Homo sapiens: one gene and its partner. The protein of the gene in region 2 interacts with the protein of the main gene of each other region in a biochemical or structural test. Each region holds a gene or a part of one and is shown on either strand. Other genes may lie near its edges.

Region 1 (9,662 bases), on a different chromosome or scaffold from region 2:
TGTTTCCCTTGGAACTAAACAGGAAGTGCAGCGACAAAAAGAAAAATAAAATAAAACCACCACGATTCGAAGAACAAAGGGCAGCCTTTCATCTTCCTGCGTCTGGTTCTCTTTCTCAGGCAGAAAAGAATTGATTCCTTATTGCATTTTAATTAGAGAAGACGGCGTCGGGGCGGATCATATGGAGGGACAAGAGAGAAAGAGCCAGATAGGGAAATGGAGATAGGGCTGAGGTTCTAAATTCGCTCCAAAAGGGTGGAAGAGTGCGTCTTTGAGCCCTTGGGTTCGACAGTCCCTCCTTCTTGCATGTTGCCGCCAAGGGCCGCCCTCGGTTGGGCTGGGGGTGGATATATATATATTTCTCTTTCTCTTAATGTATTAAAAAAAATCAAAGGACATTGCACGTGCGATCCAAGTGTGTGGTTGCAGCCGACGACCTGCCGGCGCTCAGCAGAAGCTCCGCGGGATGCGTAGCACCAGTCGCCGGAGCCCAGAGCCTGGCGTTCGCCGCTGCCTTCCTCTCCTCCCGGGGCTTCAGGAGTGGCTGGCCTGGCCAGGTCCTCGGCGCGGGCCTCGGCTCACTGGTTTAACTCCAGCGCCCAGACTTGCTGCGGCCAGCCGGTGCGTCCTTTAATCCTCTTCTCGACTGGGCCCAGGGCAGGAGGAAAACCTTCGTGCTGCTGCTGCCAAAGGACACACAGAAGAAAAGAGGCGGGAGAGACAGGTTTTAATTTTTCTGCTCCGATCGCCCGGCATGGGGTAAGATGAGGAGGAGGGGAAGGTGTCGGGAGCAGTAACTGGGAGTCTTTAAATAAGTGACGGATTTCTGTTTGCGAAATAGGCAAACAGGCTCGTAAATTTGCCTTTATGCGCGGAGTTCCTGGGACCCGGGATGGGCTGGGCAGCTTCGGGAGGTTTGGTAAGGAAAATGTTCTGCGTCTGGTGAAACTGACGCGCGTTGATTTGGCTTTAGGACACCTAAGGGAGATCCCAGGATATTGGAAGGGAGGGGTGGAAATCCACGGTTCTCCCGCTCTCGCTGCACCCCACACACTTCCGCCAGCCTCCCAACCTGGTTTAAACATCAGGGCTTGGATGCAGGCTTGGGGCCCCCTAAGCCGGAGCTGGGAGCCTCAGATACGGAGGTAAAAGAGCGGGGAGTCGAGCTGGCCTAGCGTCCTCCTTCCCGCTCTTTCAGCAGGAACCAAGCGGTGCTACTTGAAGGAGGCGGCGACGCGTGGGGGCCGGGATCCGCCCAATAACAACTTCTTTCGAGGCGCCGCACCTCGAAAGAAGCCGGCCTGCACCATCCCCAGTCCGGGGCAGCCGTTTAGAGACTCGATGCCTATTTATCTTTCCCTCGTCCCTGGATGAGCTTTCGTCAGTTTACCACAGGCCCCCGCAGGTTGGATAAACCAGGTGGGGCGCTTCAGCTGGCTCCACTCCGCTACGGCCTTAAGCCCCCCAACCTAGAGAAACTGATTGGCCAGCCTGAAAACCCAGCGCTCAGAAGCCCCCAGCCCCGGACAGCCAGACCGAGTGCCAGGAAGTGTCACCCTAACCGGAGAGGATCAAGAAGGCCAAGACGAGACTGCGCTCTCCAAAGCTAAAAGAAGTGGCTCTTATTTACATGCAAAGCCACTGAAGTCGTCCTCAGAACCAGTCCATGGGGAGAACCAGAACTGGCCCTGGACTGAGTAGAAGACCCGATCTGTTTTACCTCACCTCCACCCTGGACTCCTCAGATAGGTGCTTTTCCTGCCCCGACCCACTCTGGGCCCTCAGTTTCCCTATTTATACAATGATGGAAGTAGACTAGCCGGTCCAGCAAAGGCCCTTTGAAAACAGGAACCGAGCCCGGGCACATAAATTCAAACTCAAAGTAAAGAACTTTAACACATATTCTTAACCTGGCTTCCAGGAGAGCCCAGGAATGAATCAGGACTTCTCCAAATTGGAAGCAAAACCTGTGGTGTGTGCATTTTTGGAGGGTCCGAGGCTCCAAACAGATTATTCACTCAGTATTACAAACACTCTCCCGTATTACAAATGAATTCTATGACGAATCTGCCTCCCTCCATGCACAGGATCGCACGCTGTGACCAACCATCTCAGAACTCTTCCCAACCTTTCCAAATCGGACACAGGACAACACAGCCTCCTTCGACTACCTGCATGGCCTGAGGCTGCTCACCGCTCCTGCACCCTTGGCTGGAGCATGCAAGCCCCAGGACTCACCAGCTCCCTTTTCCGCTTGCTCTCACGGCCGCCATCCGCCTTCTTGAGTTCAGCCTTGAAGGCCTCGGGATCGCCAGACTGTGCATCCTTGGCCAGCACGTCCATCAGGTAGGCGATGTAGCTGGTGGCTAGGCGCAGAGTCTTGATCTTGGAGAGCTTGGTGTCGGCCGGCACGTTGGGGATGCACTCGCGCAACTCCGCGAATGCGCTGTTAATGCTCTCAGTGCGTCTCCGCTCCTTCTTGGGTCCTGAGCCTTTCCGCCGGCCAAGACGGCCGCCAAGCGCCTCCAGCCGCCCGGGGCTCTGCCCAGGCCTGGCGTCAGGACCATAGGCGGTGGCGGCTGCAGCGGCCGCGGGCGGCGGCCCGCCCGCAGGGAAGTCCGGGGCAGCGTCAGCCGGGCTCAGCAGCCAGCTCTGGAAGTAGGGCCTTTCCTGATGACAGCGCGAGGCCGGACCGAAGAGGAAGGGTTCGTGGAGCATGGGGTGCGCAGGGTGCGGGTGGTGATGGTGGTGATGGTGTGCGTAGCTGCCCACGAGGTTCATGTTGGAGCGGCTACTGGCCTGCGCCGCCAGCCCTATTAACGCCGCTCCATGCGCCCCAGAGACTGCCGGGGGCCACCTGTGGGCTCTGGAGCCACTACTGGGCGCCGGCTTTGGGAGAGTCCGGGCAAGGCTGAAAATGAGACGCGCAGCCCACTGTCTTCTTACCGGTTTCTGCCGCGGGCGAGGTCGCCGAAGCCCAAAGACCTGTTTAACCCTTCTGCGGACTCCCCTGCGGATCTGGCTTATATAAGACCGCGGCTTTGATGTCAACCTCTCCCGGGAGCCAATGGCAGGGGGGCGGGGATAAGGAAAAGGGGGAGTGGCTATCCCAGGTTTTACGCTCAGCCCGCGCCACTCTAGTCCGCCAGCAGGGACTGGGAACCGGCCCCGCCTCTGCCCCTCCCACTCAGCTCCCTGCTCTGCGGGCTTAGGGGGGCGGGCTGCTGGGGGTGTTGAGGGGGCGGGCACGGGGACTACGTACTTGAGGCACAGGACGGCCAACGCCCTGGACTGTTGCTGCCACCCCCTCCCCACGGATCCAAGGAAAGGAATCCAGAATCACCAAGCGAAAAGAAGGCCTACACCTAGAGCCCGCCTTTTGATTTTACAGACAAGGAAACTGAGGCCCAGGGAAAGAAAGGTTCTTGTTTCTAGACTGTCTAGAAGTCTAAATAGGAATTCCAGCAGTTCCCAGTCCCGAGCTCCAACTGCTCTGCTCGGCGTCAGAGCTAGAAGATGAGAGGGCGCTGCTGAAGACAGGATAGGCCGCTAACGTTCTTCCCTAACACCTTCCAGCCCTCCGCCCCCACCCCCACCCCTTAGTCATCGGCCCTTTCTGGAGAGACTGGGAGCCGCTTGTGCACGGGGTCGTTACCAGCCCGCCAATTCTGACCCAGCCTCAGGCAGACGGGCACGCAGCTACTGACCAGCGAAGAAGCCTTTCGGAGGCAGGGGTAGGGGTGGGGCGGGAAGGAGGAGGCGGACTCCAGGCCCACGGGCATCGACGGGTTTGTTCCCGGCTTGAGGGTCTGAGATCCACTCCGGCCTCCCGGGTGCCTGATCCATTCCGAAGGCCAGCCCGGCTGGCGCAGAGACAGTCTGGCGTCCGCCTTGGGCCCGGGGCATCTGGCCAGCAGGTCTCCTCTGGTCTGTCCGCAGGACTCGCACCGAGACCTGGGAGCGCGGCTACGTCGGGCCGCTCTACCCAGATCATCACTCCTTAAGAATCTTTGGTTCTTTAAAGACACCGGCCCCGAAGCTCACACCTCGAGACACCAGCATTCGGCGTTAGACACACGCAGAGGGGACCAAGACTGCACAGCATCCGCGAGGCTCGCACAGGCAAACGCGACGTCCGGCATCTCTCACGCATCAGCGCAGAGGCGCGACTCGGCTGCACGACCCTCCGAGATTTCACCCCGGGGGTAGGGCCATTCCCTGCCAGCCGGACTCTCTCCACTGTGGGCTTTCCCCAGGCTCGCGTTGGAATCTGGGAATCCCGGAGTGGTGACGCTTCAAGCTGGGGACTCTCGGTCTTACCTCCCGCTGTGGTTCCTTTCTTGGCCGATGTCCACCTACCTGGGTCCCTCATTCTCTCAACCTTTCTCAGCTCAACGCCCCCTCCCTCGGTGTGGTAGAGGGAGTGTGCCTCTCTTCAAAGCAAAGTCGAGGGGAGGGGGAAAGGAGAAGTTAATGTGAGTGCTCTTTTTAGAAGGCAAATCATTCACCCATTCATTCAACAATTATTTATTGATGCCTACTATGTGCCTATCATAGTTACTAGTCCAAAGACAGAGGGAGAAAGGCCCATTCTCTCCTTGAACAGATATGGAACGTGAAGCCCAGAGAAGAAGAGCGATTTTCTCGAGGTCCGGTAGGGAGTGGATGAGTGGAATTCCACTCCTGGACAAGAGAGTGAATGAAGGGTGGGGGGTTACATACAGGAGTGACGGAGACAAAAGCCTGGGCCTGCTGGTTCCACCTGTGGGAGCTCAGCAGGGCTGTGGGCCCTGGAGGTGCATGGGGGGGTGGTGCAGGGAGGTCCTGGTTTCCTGCCCGAGGCGGGCTGGAAACCCCCCGCTCTCCCCGGCGCCTGGCGCCAGCAGCGCTGGGGTAGGGCAGAGCGCGGAGCCGGAGGCACGCGGGGAGGGAGCGCTGGGGGCCCGCTGCTGCGGCGGCTCTGCGGGGTCCCAAGCCTCCCTGGCCTGGAGGCATTCTAGAAAGAGCGCAGGTAGAGAGTAATTACGCTGTGGAGAGAAGGACCTCAACACACAATCCTCAACACACGCCCAGTCTTTGTCCTAATCCAAGTACAATCTGCAACAGTGCCTCTCAGAGCGGCACACTAGGCCCTCAGATTATACATTCACAGGTACATGCACAAGGGCTCACAAAACCTTGCCGCCGTACACAAAAGCCCGTATCTTCATAAGACGCCCAAAAGTATGTGTATTCTCACAGTAATACGCACAGCCACGGTACACACAGCATTCATGCATTCCTAGGATTTTACACATTGTCTCTCTGTCACCCACAGGGTACATACTCATCACGCTTCAGATGTGTTACACCTGGGAGCCGCTCCCAATCCTCCATTCAGGCATGCACAGAGACCAAAGTCATATGGTAGAAACACATAAATTCTGAATACTACACAAATGCAGGGTTTCACACATAATCTCATTGCCACAATTTAAACCAGCTTGTATCTTCCTAAGATTCTCCACAATTGTATTCGCAACACAAACTTCCAAAATCCCATCATACATTTTGTATATTCTCAGTGTCACCGCTAAGCCTTCAGTGCACAAGTACACAGTCACAATATCTACTACATATGCACAGGTGCTCACAAATAGAGGTTCTCACATGCTCACACATAACACACATACAAATGTGTGGCCCACGCGCCTGCCCATATGAGTCCTAGTTGCTTTTATGATGTTACACAGATCACTCAAGGTTGTATACATCCCCCATATATCTGGCCTGGTTAGTGTGGTGGGGAATGCATTATCAGTACTGGGTGAGGAGTCCCAGTCCTATGACACCCCTTGAGGGCCCCTGAGACTACCTGGCAGCCCCCCATGGGTCTTAAAGAGCAGGGTGTCTCCAGCTGCCAGTGATGTGGAAAGCACTGTTCCCCAACCTAGAGAAGGTATTCAGTGTCATTTTTCAAGCGGTGCCCCCACCAGAAACTCAGCCCTAAGGGATCTCCTGAGGCTTGGGGCTGGGGCAACCCCCAGCAGGATGACGTCGGGGGAGACTGCAGTACAACTAGGCTCTAGACTGCCTTCTCAGAGACCCCAAAATGCTTTACTGTAGTCCGTGGAGAGCAGCAGAACTCCCGGGATGGTGGGGACCTTGTAAGGTTGTTCTCTATCTCTGCCCAAGCTATATTGTAGGAGGAGGTCTGAGACCTAGGATTTTGGCTAAAATTGCTTTAGGCTGGCAGGCAAGAGATGTGACAGGCAAGAGTCCTGGCTTTCCCTATCTAGCACCTCTTTGTTCCTTTCCAGTCCGAGCCTCAGTTTCCCCAGTTGCAGAAGAAGGGAATAGGATTGATAGTCTGGAATTCTGGAATTCCCAGCTCCTCACTATTGCAGGGACCCTGCCCTGGTTCCTCCTGGGACTTAGTGCTCAGCTCAGGGATCCCTACAGAAGGACTCCGCTTTCCTCTTGCCTACCTCAACAGACCAAGGACTAGAACTCCCAGGGTCCTAGCCCACACTGCCCCTGCAGCCTCCTCTTAACGAACCTTGCTCACCTAAAGAGTGCCTTCAGGGGGGTTGGCCTTCTTAGTATTTTCAAATGCAGGCTTCTCGTTTCTTCCCCCAGTTGTAGTGGTGAGACCCGGCAGGAACTCTTCTTTACCCTGTTTTACAAAGTAGAGGGCTTATGCACATAAAACACATTCCACCTTGCTATGGAATCGGGCCCATCTGAGTTAAAACTGTGCACATCATTCCTCCCTGTGTGAAGCTTCTACACCTCAGTTTTCTCTTCTGTAAATTGGAGGACAATAATAACCTCTGTGGAGGGCTGGCGTAAGAGTAAGCACAAGGCGAGGCTCTTAGCACAGTGACAGTAAACCTGGATAAATGGTGGCTCTGTTTTTAGGAATATTAATTTCATAGGGGCGGAAATGGAATTACATGCCGCCACATGACTACAAAGCTCTGGATGGGGAGAAGGACCAGGACACTGAATCCTCCTTGCAGGGCTCTGTTCTGACCTGACCTAGCTGCTTCTGACTGCCTTAGGTTCCTTCCCATTCCCTACTGACCCTACACAACCCAGCCATCATAAGACTGGAGATACAGAGACATCGCCAGGTGTAGGAATTATGTTGCCAGAGACCCGAATTCCAGTTCCAGATTCCACCCTCCACCCCCATGTCCCTCCCTAAATGACTTGGTGGGGGGTGCAGTCTTGTCACCTACGGGACTCAGTTCCCCCAACCATAACAGTAGGACAGCTGTACCCGGGCAATGCGAAGGTCCCTCAAGCCTGGACGTTCTGCAGTGGTGGGGTCTCGCTCTTGCCCTAGCCCCTCTCCTACCCTCACCCCTATCCGCGCCCCCCGGACTGGCAGGCCTCTGGAAGCCCAGGCCGCGGCGCCTACCGCAAAACCTTCTCCCGCCGCAGTCCCGTGACCTTGACGCCACGGGCAATCCCCGCACCGGACCCCTTATCTAAATAGGGCAGTAAATCAAGGACCTGTCAGGGCCCGGGTAATTACAGGAACTCCATAAAAAGGACCCGGCCGGCCGCCTGTTTATATTAGCGCGGTGTAAAATATTCTCGCTGTCTTGGGGAATCGCGTCGCGCAGTAACGCGCCATAAATCAGCCCGCGGACCATTTACCCCGCAGCTTGAGCGCGCAAATCCCTTAAACATTTCTCTGCCATGTCTGAAGAGGACCTAGGACTTTCCAATCTGGCCCAGCCTGCTCCCAGGGATGGGGGACAGTCGGGGCAGGGAAGAGATAGGCACGGAGTAGATTGCTCCTGGGAGCTCCAAGGTTCTGTTTGCAGACGGGAAACTAGCCCAGAGAGGGGAAGGAACTTTCCTAAGGGCACACGGCCGATGAGTGGCAGACGCGCGGCTAAAGCCCAGATCTCCAGAGGGGACCTGGGGTGAACAGCAGCCTCTGTCTCCCCTTATTACCTTCTTTCCTGAGACGAGGGTGGTCAGGCCAGAAAGGGTCCAAGCAGGAAGTGACGTTCTTTACATTTTGGCCAGGAGGTTCTTGCCATTGTGCACAGAATTATGTGTCAATGCTTTTCTGCGCAACGGTAGCCCCTGATTACGGGCAAAACACAGGCCCAGAGGATGGGGAGAGACTTGCCCAAGGGCACACAGATAGAAATCGACGACCCTCCCCTGCTAAAATAATTCATTTTGGTTTATCTCCTCCACGCTCTTTCTTAAAGAAAAACTAGGAGAGAGTGCCTATGCATATATGTGTGTGGCTGTGTGTGTGTACGAGGGGGGGGGGTCATTTGTGCTCATTCTCAGGCCTGTAACAGGCCTCAAAAATACAAAATCTATTTAAGGTAAACCTGCTGCTGCCTATTGTCCAATGAGTAACATAAATCAAGCTTATGGAAAAAGAATATTACATTTTCTAACCTCCCTCTGGGCTAGGACCTGAGGATTCGAGGGAGAATTAAACATGTATGTGTTTCCCCCAACTTTTTCTGTCTTCCTCCCCTCATTCTCTTTCTCTTCCGAAGCCCGTAAATGACAATGTGTTTACATAAGTTTTTATGTCGTCTGAGCTTCGTCCCGGCTCCGTTTCCTCCTCTGTGTATTTTCCGCACAGAGAGATGTCTGCTTCGGGACGCGTTCAACCTAAACAGAACCCGGTCTGATTGGAAAATGTATTTATTTGAAAAATCGTAACTCACGGTTTTGGTGAAAACGGCCCCCAAATTTATGGGATCGCTTGGGGCGCAGCGATTGTAAATCAAAAGGCACTGGACACCTCCCTCCCCCATCCCCGAAGCAGCTCGGTCAGGTTCTCCAGAACACCAGGAGTCCTGTCTCCTCCCGGTCCACCCTGCGGCCCTCCGAGACCCTCCCTTCTCCCATCCCTCGCAGTGGTTAGTTGCACACTAGCAGGCAGGTGGATTTTACTCCGGTTTCTTTTACCCAGTCCCGTTGCTTTCAGGGCAATTTCATTCTGGTCAGCTTCACAGCACTCAGCTCCAGGCCGCCTGTTAACGAAGTTTTGCTGTGCACCAGGCTGTTTTCGGCATATTGGGAGATTTTTTTTGTTCCTCACATGCTGGTTAGTTTCCTGGTGCTCGGTTGCTCCCCGGGTCGGGTCGGGCCACTTGTAGCCAATCCCTAGACCACTGATCATTGCCTGCCGAGCTGTTTCATGCCAAGAGGCTTATCTCGGCTCATTGTCACGAAGGTCATTCTCACTGCCTGACTGTTGCATCCCTGGTCAGGAGAATTTTTTCCTTTCCCAGTCTAATCTGAATTCCACAGCAAGGACTGAATCAACCCACTTTACCTATCTCCTGGGTCCTCCTGCCAGCGAAAGCCAGCTGATTACTGGGGAAAAGCTAGAGCCGGGATGGTGTATCCAAGGACAGATGCTGCTGGCTACATAGGTGGGGAGTCTTCGCCAGGGACACGACCAGCAGAGCTGGACGCAGGGACATTTCATGAGCAAACATTGAGTCTACTTTCTCCTGGAATACAGGACTGAGCCATATCTCTGTCTTAAGGATCATGCGCTTCTCTGGCAGAGTCCCCATGGGGCACAATGCAAGCTGTCCACTCCAGGCTTGTCCATCTAAGCCTTGCTATCTCAGGGACAGGGTCTGGAGATTCATTCAAAACTTCTGTGCTCTTTTCTCCAAAAG
Region 2 (8,875 bases):
GGTCTGAAAAACAGAAGCTATCACGTGAAAGGTGAAACCCGTAAAGAAGGGGTGAAAATGAGGGGGACAGGTAATTCAGAAATAAGATCCAGAAGTGAGAAGGTGAGGTAATAGCAACCTGGTGTGTGCAGCATTTCTAAAATGAAAGAGAACAAATAACAGGAACCTGGGGAATTTGAGAACACAAAGAAGCATAGTATCCATGAATTATGAAGAGAAACAGATACAAACTAGAAAGGATTGTAAAAATTATGTGACCAAATAATACTTTGATTGAACCTTCAATATAAAAATATATTTTCATTAGTAAATCCAAGGTGCATTGCAGCTTCTGGAGATTTAAGCTTAGCCTAAAGTCTGAGACACACCTACAGTTTCATTTTCAAAGTAAAACATTCACCTAGTAATAAAATGAGTTTTAATTTTCCTATCAGTGGCATATTTAGGGCATATTTTTGGAAGATTAGTATGCAAAACATCAAGTTTGTCAATTTTTTCCTGTTGCAATATATGACTAACTGAAGTTTTGAAACAGTAAGATAACTTCTATTTATTTTAAAGTTTGCACCTAGAGACAAGAGTTTGACGTATGACGACTGCACATCTGTTTGATAGTGGTGCTTAACATAACCCTGATTTGAAAAAGTGGCATTATTTTGTTCAGTGTGCCTGACAGGAGGGAGAAGGAAAGCTATTTGAGATTAGTTGACTTTAAAATATATGAGTGGAACTAGGAAATGCTAATATCTAACTTCTCAGCCCAACTGCCGGTAATTATTTCACTGGGAGACTTTCAAGTAAAAATTGTGGGACATTTTGGCCAATGGGTTAGCATCTGGATTACAAATTAAGGCGTAATTTTTACCTGAAAAGAGACAGCCGGGCTGAAAGCAAAGTCCGTTAAGAGTGAAACAAGAACTAAGAATAAAATAACACAGACTTGAACTGTGCAATCACTCTGAATATTTAATGGGTGCCACAAGTACCCAGAAGAAACTATTGTTATGTTAATGCAGCACCTGACATACTCTTCTTATTTCATAGGCAAAGTACTAGCTCTGTGATTAGATTGAATTCTCCAACAACAACATCTCAGATTATGGCAAGAAAGAAAAGGAGAGGGGTATGTGATTTTTCCCCCTTTTTATTTCATGTAACTTATACTATTGTGTAACAGTTACATTTTTTCATTTGAGTAATTTTATCATTTGTGAATTCATAAACTTTTGTTGTTTGCTTCTTTTGGATAGATTATAGAGAAAAGGCGTCGGGATCGGATAAATAACAGTTTATCTGAGTTGAGAAGACTTGTGCCAACTGCTTTTGAAAAACAAGTAAGCTATCCCCTCCCCAGAATCCCCCCACCCACCCCGCCACCCCCCAAAAAAAAGCTCAAACACAATCTGATTCGCTCATCTGGGAATGTGGGTTCTTGTTAAAGCTCATTAAAATAATAGTGTATGTGCCCTGATCTGGCACAGAGCAGCTATTTCAATAAAATGCTTTGTTGTGGCAAAACTATTAAAAACATAATCCATCATGAAGTTGAAAAACATTTCCATTCTTTAGCTTATTTTCCCCTTAAGGGTAACAGTGTTCATGCTTTCTCTGTTCTTTCTATGAATACCAGTAGTGGTTTTATTTAAAACTGTGCTGTATACCGTATCCTTCAAAAAAAAAAAAAAAACCATTTTTTTCTCAAAATTTTTTTAAAATGTAATATTTTTAATTAAAAAACAATCAGAGCCCAAGAAGTAACATCTCTAGCTCTATTTCCTAAATGATAATACCACTAAAATTTATTTACCAAGCCATTTGCTTTCATTTTTAATCCCTGGGTTGGTAGAATGCCATTTGATTTGGGTCATCTTTTTAGAAGTTTGGTAAAAATGAAGTTAATCATAAATGCCCCTTTTCATAGTTACCTATTCCTTTACAAAAAAAGAAAGAAAGAAAAAGATTTTGCACACTTAGAAAAGTAGAAAGCCAAATGTTTAAATCTTTTGTGGTTTTAGAAGTCATGGCTCTCCCCCTGCCGCAGTGGTTAATGACACAGATTTCTAAGAGTATCTTTCAAAGGATATGGCAGCATGTCCTTGTTGAAAATACTTTCAGTTTAATTCCAATAAGACAACAGTTGTTTGTTTATTCCATTTTGTTTGTTTACTTCATGAATCTGCAAACATTATAAAACAAGCCCTACAAAGTCCTTGGAAATTATCCAGAAAGTGCAGTTTCAATTATTAGTGACTTTACTGAATCTGCTTGTACCATTTTCATGGAAAAATTAAACGCTGACCAAATACAAAACATAATATGCTACTGATTATACATTTTTAAGACAAAAAGCACACCCAATCTATATGCAGAGACTGTGTTTGATAAACTAAAAATAATGTGGAAATTGTAGTTTTGATTAGTAGCATTTTCAGTGCCAAATAGGCTTCAAGTGAAAATGTCAGTAATCAATGATGTTTTTAAAATTTGGAAGTACTGAAATGTCTGCAGTTATGAGGCGAAGTCTGTTTGATTTTTTTTCTTGGTTTGTTAGATTTTTTTTTTCTTAAATGTTGACTTAAACCTTAAAAGCAAACATCAGTTGTTTGGCAGTTAGTTACCATAAACACAAGCTTTCCCATTTGCAGAGCTTGGCTACCAACCCAAGTGAGTTGGCCCTGTCACAATATGATTAGAAAAGTGTTCTTTAGAGCAGTTAAGTAACTCTGGCACTCTCACCGTACGTGGTGCTGATAATTTTTACAAAACAAGTAAAGCATAGGGACCTGAAATAAACCTTAGTGTCCTTAAAAAAGAAAAAAAAAGAGAACATATTGGTAATTATTTAGCTCTTCCAGGAAATGAGAAGCCACCCACAGTCCCCGAGACAGCTTGAAATGGCACATTTGTATTTCAATTGGTTACCAGAGGTTTCCTTATTCTGAAAGCAGGGACATAAAAATATATTTGCAAGACAATTTTATTAAGAACTATTTTAAAAGGTTCAAAAATCCTTAAGCATTTATGATGCTTCCTAGGTAAGCAGTAAATTATTGCTTCTTGTTTGTGAGCTTAGAAATTCACAGTGACACCTGCTGGTAATTATTGGGGAAAAAAACCTTAAAAGTCGTCCTTTTTAAAATTTTTGGATCTGCTTGAAATGCAGATCCAATTATATGGTTCTAGTGTGAATACCTTATTTCAGGACTTAGTAGGCCTGTGAAAGGACTTATTGGAGTTTTCTATTTTAAAAATATTTAACAATCAATTGCTAAAATCCTATCTCCTTATCTTCTGGAGTTGTTATGCAACTCCTCTAGACTTTGGCTTTATAGAAGACTATTGATGCCCCATAGTAAAACATATTATTAACCAAGACACAGATTGAATGCAAAGTTTGAGATTTTTACAACTGAAATCATTTTGCTGTGGTGATCTTAGGAGAATAATTATTCTTATGATTTAAAAAAGTCATTCTAGTTTCTTTTAGTCTTTAAAAGTTAAAATGGCAAATACTTGTCATTAGGTATGACATTAATTAGTGCTTTCATGTAAAGTTTGGAAAGAATTCGAAGTTTTCTGTGAAAAAATAAAAGTTGGGATTGTCTAGTGAGAGGGAAATTGAAGCCATAATGCTAAATTCAGTGTATAATGTTTCAGATTAGTTTCTGTAGGACATAGGATTATTTATTTATTTATTTATTTATGAAGGGATCTGCAAAGTTAGAAAAAGCTGAAATATTGCAAATGACAGTGGATCATTTGAAGATGCTTCAGGCAACAGGGGGTAAAGGTAAGTAGATGACTTCATTTTTTTTTTTTTTTGCCTTTTTTACCTTTCTCTTTTCATGTTATTCCCCCTAATATTGTAAGGAAGTCATAGCTGAACAGTTCTTTAACAAGCTGAGATAGGAGGCCCCAGATTAAAGCCATGGAAATCAATGCTAATGGCAGGATTGAACTCGTGGGAAAGAACTTTTGGAACAAAAGAAGCACTTGACCCTGGGCTTGTGTTTGCTTTCATAATACTGTGGGAGTAAAGCTTCATTCACAGCAGCCTGGTCAGAGATTTGTTTAGGACTTAAGAAGCGCATGCTGGAATCTGTACAGAAAGAACAAAAAACAAACACACAAACATCCAAACATAAACAGGAGGTTAGAGGTAATCCTTTTCTCCTCCTTCTGCTTCTTTCTTCCTACTCCTTCTCCTCCTCTGTCTTCATTAAATGAAGGCTAAGACTGAAAATAATTCAGCTATTCCAAAGGAATTGACTCTAGAGTTATTTTCATTATTGTTTTCAGATTTTTGCTTGGTCTTGAATTTAGACCAAACAGAACAGTTGAAGTGCAGGTAGGAAGTCTCTACACCAGAAGCCATTAATGGAGCAGAGTCATTCTTGGGGAAAGCAAACAGGAGCAGGCACTCCAGGTCCAGGGCCCTAGAGAGGTGTCCTCTGTACTGGATAGTGACTTAGGGAGTAATTGTCGAGGTGGTGAGAGAGGATCTCATCTCATGCTAAAAACAGCCTTGAGATCCTAGTTCACTCAGATTTCATTATCCCACTTACACATCACAACTCAGACTTGATTTTGTTCCTCTGAATCTTTTTCATCCTTCAAAGAATCCTTTGATATTCACCTTAGCCAAGGGTGTTATTCAGTATATTTAACAACTGAATAAGGAGAAGGTATCAGAAGGATTTAAGGGCTCCAACTAAATCCTGAAGGCCTCCCGGTGCTCAGCATTAACCTTTTACTACACTGTATACGGGTCCTAGATCAGGGCAGAGGCAGGACATTGGAGGGAAGCAACTGTTACCAATATTTAACTCCTGTATGGCCATACCATTGAGGATCTCTAGAACATCAGCCCTGATCTTAACCATCTTTTTCCTGCGTCTAGTAGGGAGGGAGGGTAACCATTGTACAGAGAAGCCCCAATGGGTTGACTTTTCCCAGATTGTACCTTCTCAAGGAACCATCCTGAATGATGGCATGAAATGCAAACATTCTTACATAATAGAAAAGATAACTGGATTAAATCACAGAAGCCAATGATCCAGCCTAGCTTGACCACTGCTGTGCCTCTGACCTAAGAAAAAAGTCTGGGCTGCACTTTGAGGGCTACACTAGCAGCATGAGCGCCAAGGGCCCCTGCAGCTCCATGATTCTGTCTCTACAACTGCTACCTCAGGATGTTAGGATACTGATTGAATTAGTCATGCTACAAGAAAATTTGTTTGATTGCTTTACTTCCCTTAGCATTGTTAGCCACAAGGCTAAGTTTTCTCATTAGGGTTTCAAATATTTGGCATGAGCTGTACTTCTAAAGAGTAATATTGTTCTTAGGCTTTATTATAAAAACTAAGTTCCATCTTGGTTGCTATTCTTGGCCACCTAGACAGTCCTAAAATTTGTCCCAGAATAGTTTGTGAACAGATATTTCCAAGTAGGCTCCATACACGTCACCTGACTGTCAGGCCATTGAAGAGGTCATTGCACTGGAGAATGGCCTTCAAGAAGGGAGCTGGCGGCTGGGTGTGGTGGCTCATGCCTGTAATCCCAGCACTTTGGGAGGCCGAGGTGGGCGGATCACCTGAGGTCCAGAGTTTCAGACCAGCCTGACCAACATGGAGAAATCCCGTTTCTACTAAAAATACAAAATTAGCTGGGCATGGTGGTGCATGCCTGTAATCCCAGCTACTCAGGAGGCTGAGGCAGGAGAATTGCTTGAACCCGGGAGGCAGAGGTTGTGGTGAGCCGAGATCGCGCCATTGCACTCCAGCCTGGGCAATAAGAGTGAAACTCCATCTCAAAAAAAATAGAAAAAATAAAAAGAAGGGAGCTGGCTGTTTGGGTTAACATTGTAAAAGAATACCAACTGCCTCATAGTGCAGTGGTGAAGGGCATCGTATCTGTAGCTGGATTGCCTGATTTCAAATCCTGGTTCTGCCACTGATTAGCTCTGTGACTTTGGGCAAATTACCCCCTGCGAGCTGGTCCAGTTTTATCATCTGTAAAAAGAGGACAGTTGTAGTGTCCATACTATATAACTCATAAGGCTGTTACAAGTTAATTCACTTAAGGCCGATAGAATAGTGCTGGTGTAGAGGGAGTGGTATGGACATGTATGTTACTGTTGGCCCAAGATCCATTCACAAAAGGGAGCTACTTATCATCATTTCCCTCTGAAGTCCACAATAGGATAGGAATTGCATAATTTATATTCCTTTAAGATATAACAGAGAGCTCAGCCATATATGACAACATAGCAGGCAAACCACAAATTTCAATTACTTCATGACCAGTAATGAAAATTCTTAGAAGCTCTTGGGGCTCCAATTCTGTTAGTTCATTCTTTATAGTCTGTCTTGGTATGACAATAGTATCTAGAGAGGATTTAGTAGAATAACCTAAGTTTCGAAATCCCTCTGGATTTCTGGACTCTGTCTATTCTATTCATTACCCCCGTCTTTCTCTCATGGGAGTCAGAAGTCTGCAAAGCCCTACAGAACCCTGAGGACCAAAATGTGAAATCTTTCCATGAATACCTCTTCTTCAGGAATAGCTTTTCATCCTAATCCAAGAGGCTCTGTTTGTTAACTATGTCAGAGTCCTGGGATGATAACTGTTTTTGCTGCTGATCTTCCGTATTTCATGATATTCTCTTGGTATCAGCTTTGTACTGCTGTTGTTTCTGTTTTAGTAGTGTATATATTTGCCACAAATATCTTTTGGGAACTTCCAAATCGTTGGAATTTTAGCTTTAGGACTCTTAATATATGTGACTACTATCTCCAAAGTTCTTTGATTACAGATTAAGATAGCCAAATTTTTAATAGGTGATGAATAAACAGGTAATGCTTTGATCAGCAAAAACATAGATAATGTAAATGTTTTAGATAAAAATAACTGCTGGGTGTGGTGGCTCACGCCTGTAATCCCAGCACTTTGGGAAGCCGAGGCAGGAGAATGGCTTGAGTTCAGGAGGTCTAGACCAGTCTGAGCAACATAGCGAGATCTTGTCTGTACTAAAAATCACACAGATTAGCCAAGTGTGGTGGCACATGCCTATAGTCCCAGCTACTCAGGAGGCTGAGGCAGGAAGATCACTTAACCCCAGGAGATGGAGCCTGCAGTGAGCTGTGATTGGGCCACTGCACTCCAGCCTGGGTGACAGAGTGAAATCCTGTCTCAAAGATAAATAAATTAATAAATAACCTTATTTGAATGTGATATTTCTTATTCATGTATATACACATCCCCAAAATGAATAGACCAAACTTTTGATTTGGAAATTACTTTTTAAAAAGTTGTAAATGAAAAATAATCTGTTTTTATATACCAGACGTCACTCATTCAAAGTGGGCAACATTTCTCCATATGTCTGATTATTATTGTGCCCTACATGCCCTACATGGGCACTCCAATAATTAGACATTATTATTTTCTATTCTAATGTATTATCTTCAGACAGAGACTCAGATAAATGTGACCAAGCTCTAGCCATTTTTATGGTAGTAACCATAGGTATAGGAGTGCATGCATATACACTGACAAAATTAATATACATTTTTTTTCTTGGGTGTATGCTAGAAAAATGTAAGGACATATATTTGAACTTCAGATAAACTAGGCGTTGACATATAGTATTTTCATATCAGGAACTTAGCCTTATATTACTGACAGAAATATAAGATCTTCAAGTAAGAAACCAAATTTTTTTTAAAAACTCATTTTGTTTTCATTAAATTTTTTATACAAAGTTATGACAAGATGGTTTCACTTTGTTGATAAAAAACATTGTTAGTCAAGAAGCAGTTATGAATTTATTGCGATTCTAGCACATTTCTAAAGTCCTCAAGCTGCTAAGATGCACTTGGCATCTCTGTTAAAATGCCAAGAGAGTAAAGATGTTTCAGATAAGCCCTTTAATCTCCAACTCATGTGACAGAGACAGAGAGACTGGAACTCTGTATTTCCATGAAAAAGTTTCCTGGAGAATTTCACTATCCCACAATACAAAGGGAGAGACCCCATTTCTTTCTCTGGAAGTGTTTGAAACGCGGATGTTCTTAATTTTTTTCCCCACTGTGATATTTAGCTGCAAGAACAACTGTAGCATATTGCATTGCCAGAGTTGTCACACATGTGAGTGGCAAAGTATACTTTCTTAACTTCTGCAAAAAATTAAAACCATAAATAGCTGGCAATATTTCCAGAAAGGATTATCGTTCCACTTCAGTCTTCTGAAGGACAGAGTGGAACATCAGTGGGTGGTTATTGTTGACTATACCATTTTCTCACCCCTACCTCCCGCCCATCTCTCTCCTGTTCCCTACTTTGCTCAAACCCACTTTTAGGCTACTTTGACGCACACGCTCTTGCCATGGACTTCATGAGCATAGGATTCCGAGAGTGCCTAACAGAAGTTGCGCGGTACCTGAGCTCCGTGGAAGGCCTGGACTCCTCGGATCCGCTGCGGGTGCGGCTTGTGTCTCATCTCAGCACTTGCGCCACCCAGCGGGAGGCGGCGGCCATGACATCCTCCATGGCCCACCACCATCATCCGCTCCACCCGCATCACTGGGCCGCCGCCTTCCACCACCTGCCCGCAGCCCTGCTCCAGCCCAACGGCCTCCATGCCTCAGAGTCAACCCCTTGTCGCCTCTCCACAACTTCAGAAGTGCCTCCTGCCCACGGCTCTGCTCTCCTCACGGCCACGTTTGCCCATGCGGATTCAGCCCTCCGAATGCCATCCACGGGCAGCGTCGCCCCCTGCGTGCCACCTCTCTCCACCTCTCTCTTGTCCCTCTCTGCCACCGTCCACGCCGCAGCCGCAGCAGCCACCGCGGCTGCACACAGCTTCCCTCTGTCC

What was found.
Region 1: the proteins of HEY2 (region 2) and HAND1 form a complex in vitro, tested with the Homo sapiens proteins (one study listed by BioGRID).

The regions. Positions count from the first base shown.
Region 1 is NC_000005.10:154,475,228-154,484,889, forward strand, and holds the start of HAND1 (heart- and neural crest derivatives-expressed protein 1), read right to left. Parts: upstream 3,001-9,662; 5' UTR 2,782-3,000; coding exon 2,239-2,781; intron 684-2,238; coding exon 579-683; 3' UTR 1-578. UniProt on the Homo sapiens protein: Transcription factor that plays an essential role in both trophoblast giant cell differentiation and in cardiac morphogenesis. Binds the DNA sequence 5'-NRTCTG-3' (non-canonical E-box). Acts as a transcriptional repressor of SOX15.
Region 2 is NC_000006.12:125,750,757-125,759,631, forward strand, and holds part of HEY2 (hairy/enhancer-of-split related with YRPW motif protein 2), read left to right. Parts: exon of another isoform or gene 1-770; intron 771-1,044; coding exon 1,045-1,123; intron 1,124-1,250; coding exon 1,251-1,334; intron 1,335-3,708; coding exon 3,709-3,790; intron 3,791-8,360; coding exon 8,361-8,875. UniProt on the Homo sapiens protein: Downstream effector of Notch signaling which may be required for cardiovascular development. Transcriptional repressor which binds preferentially to the canonical E box sequence 5'-CACGTG-3'.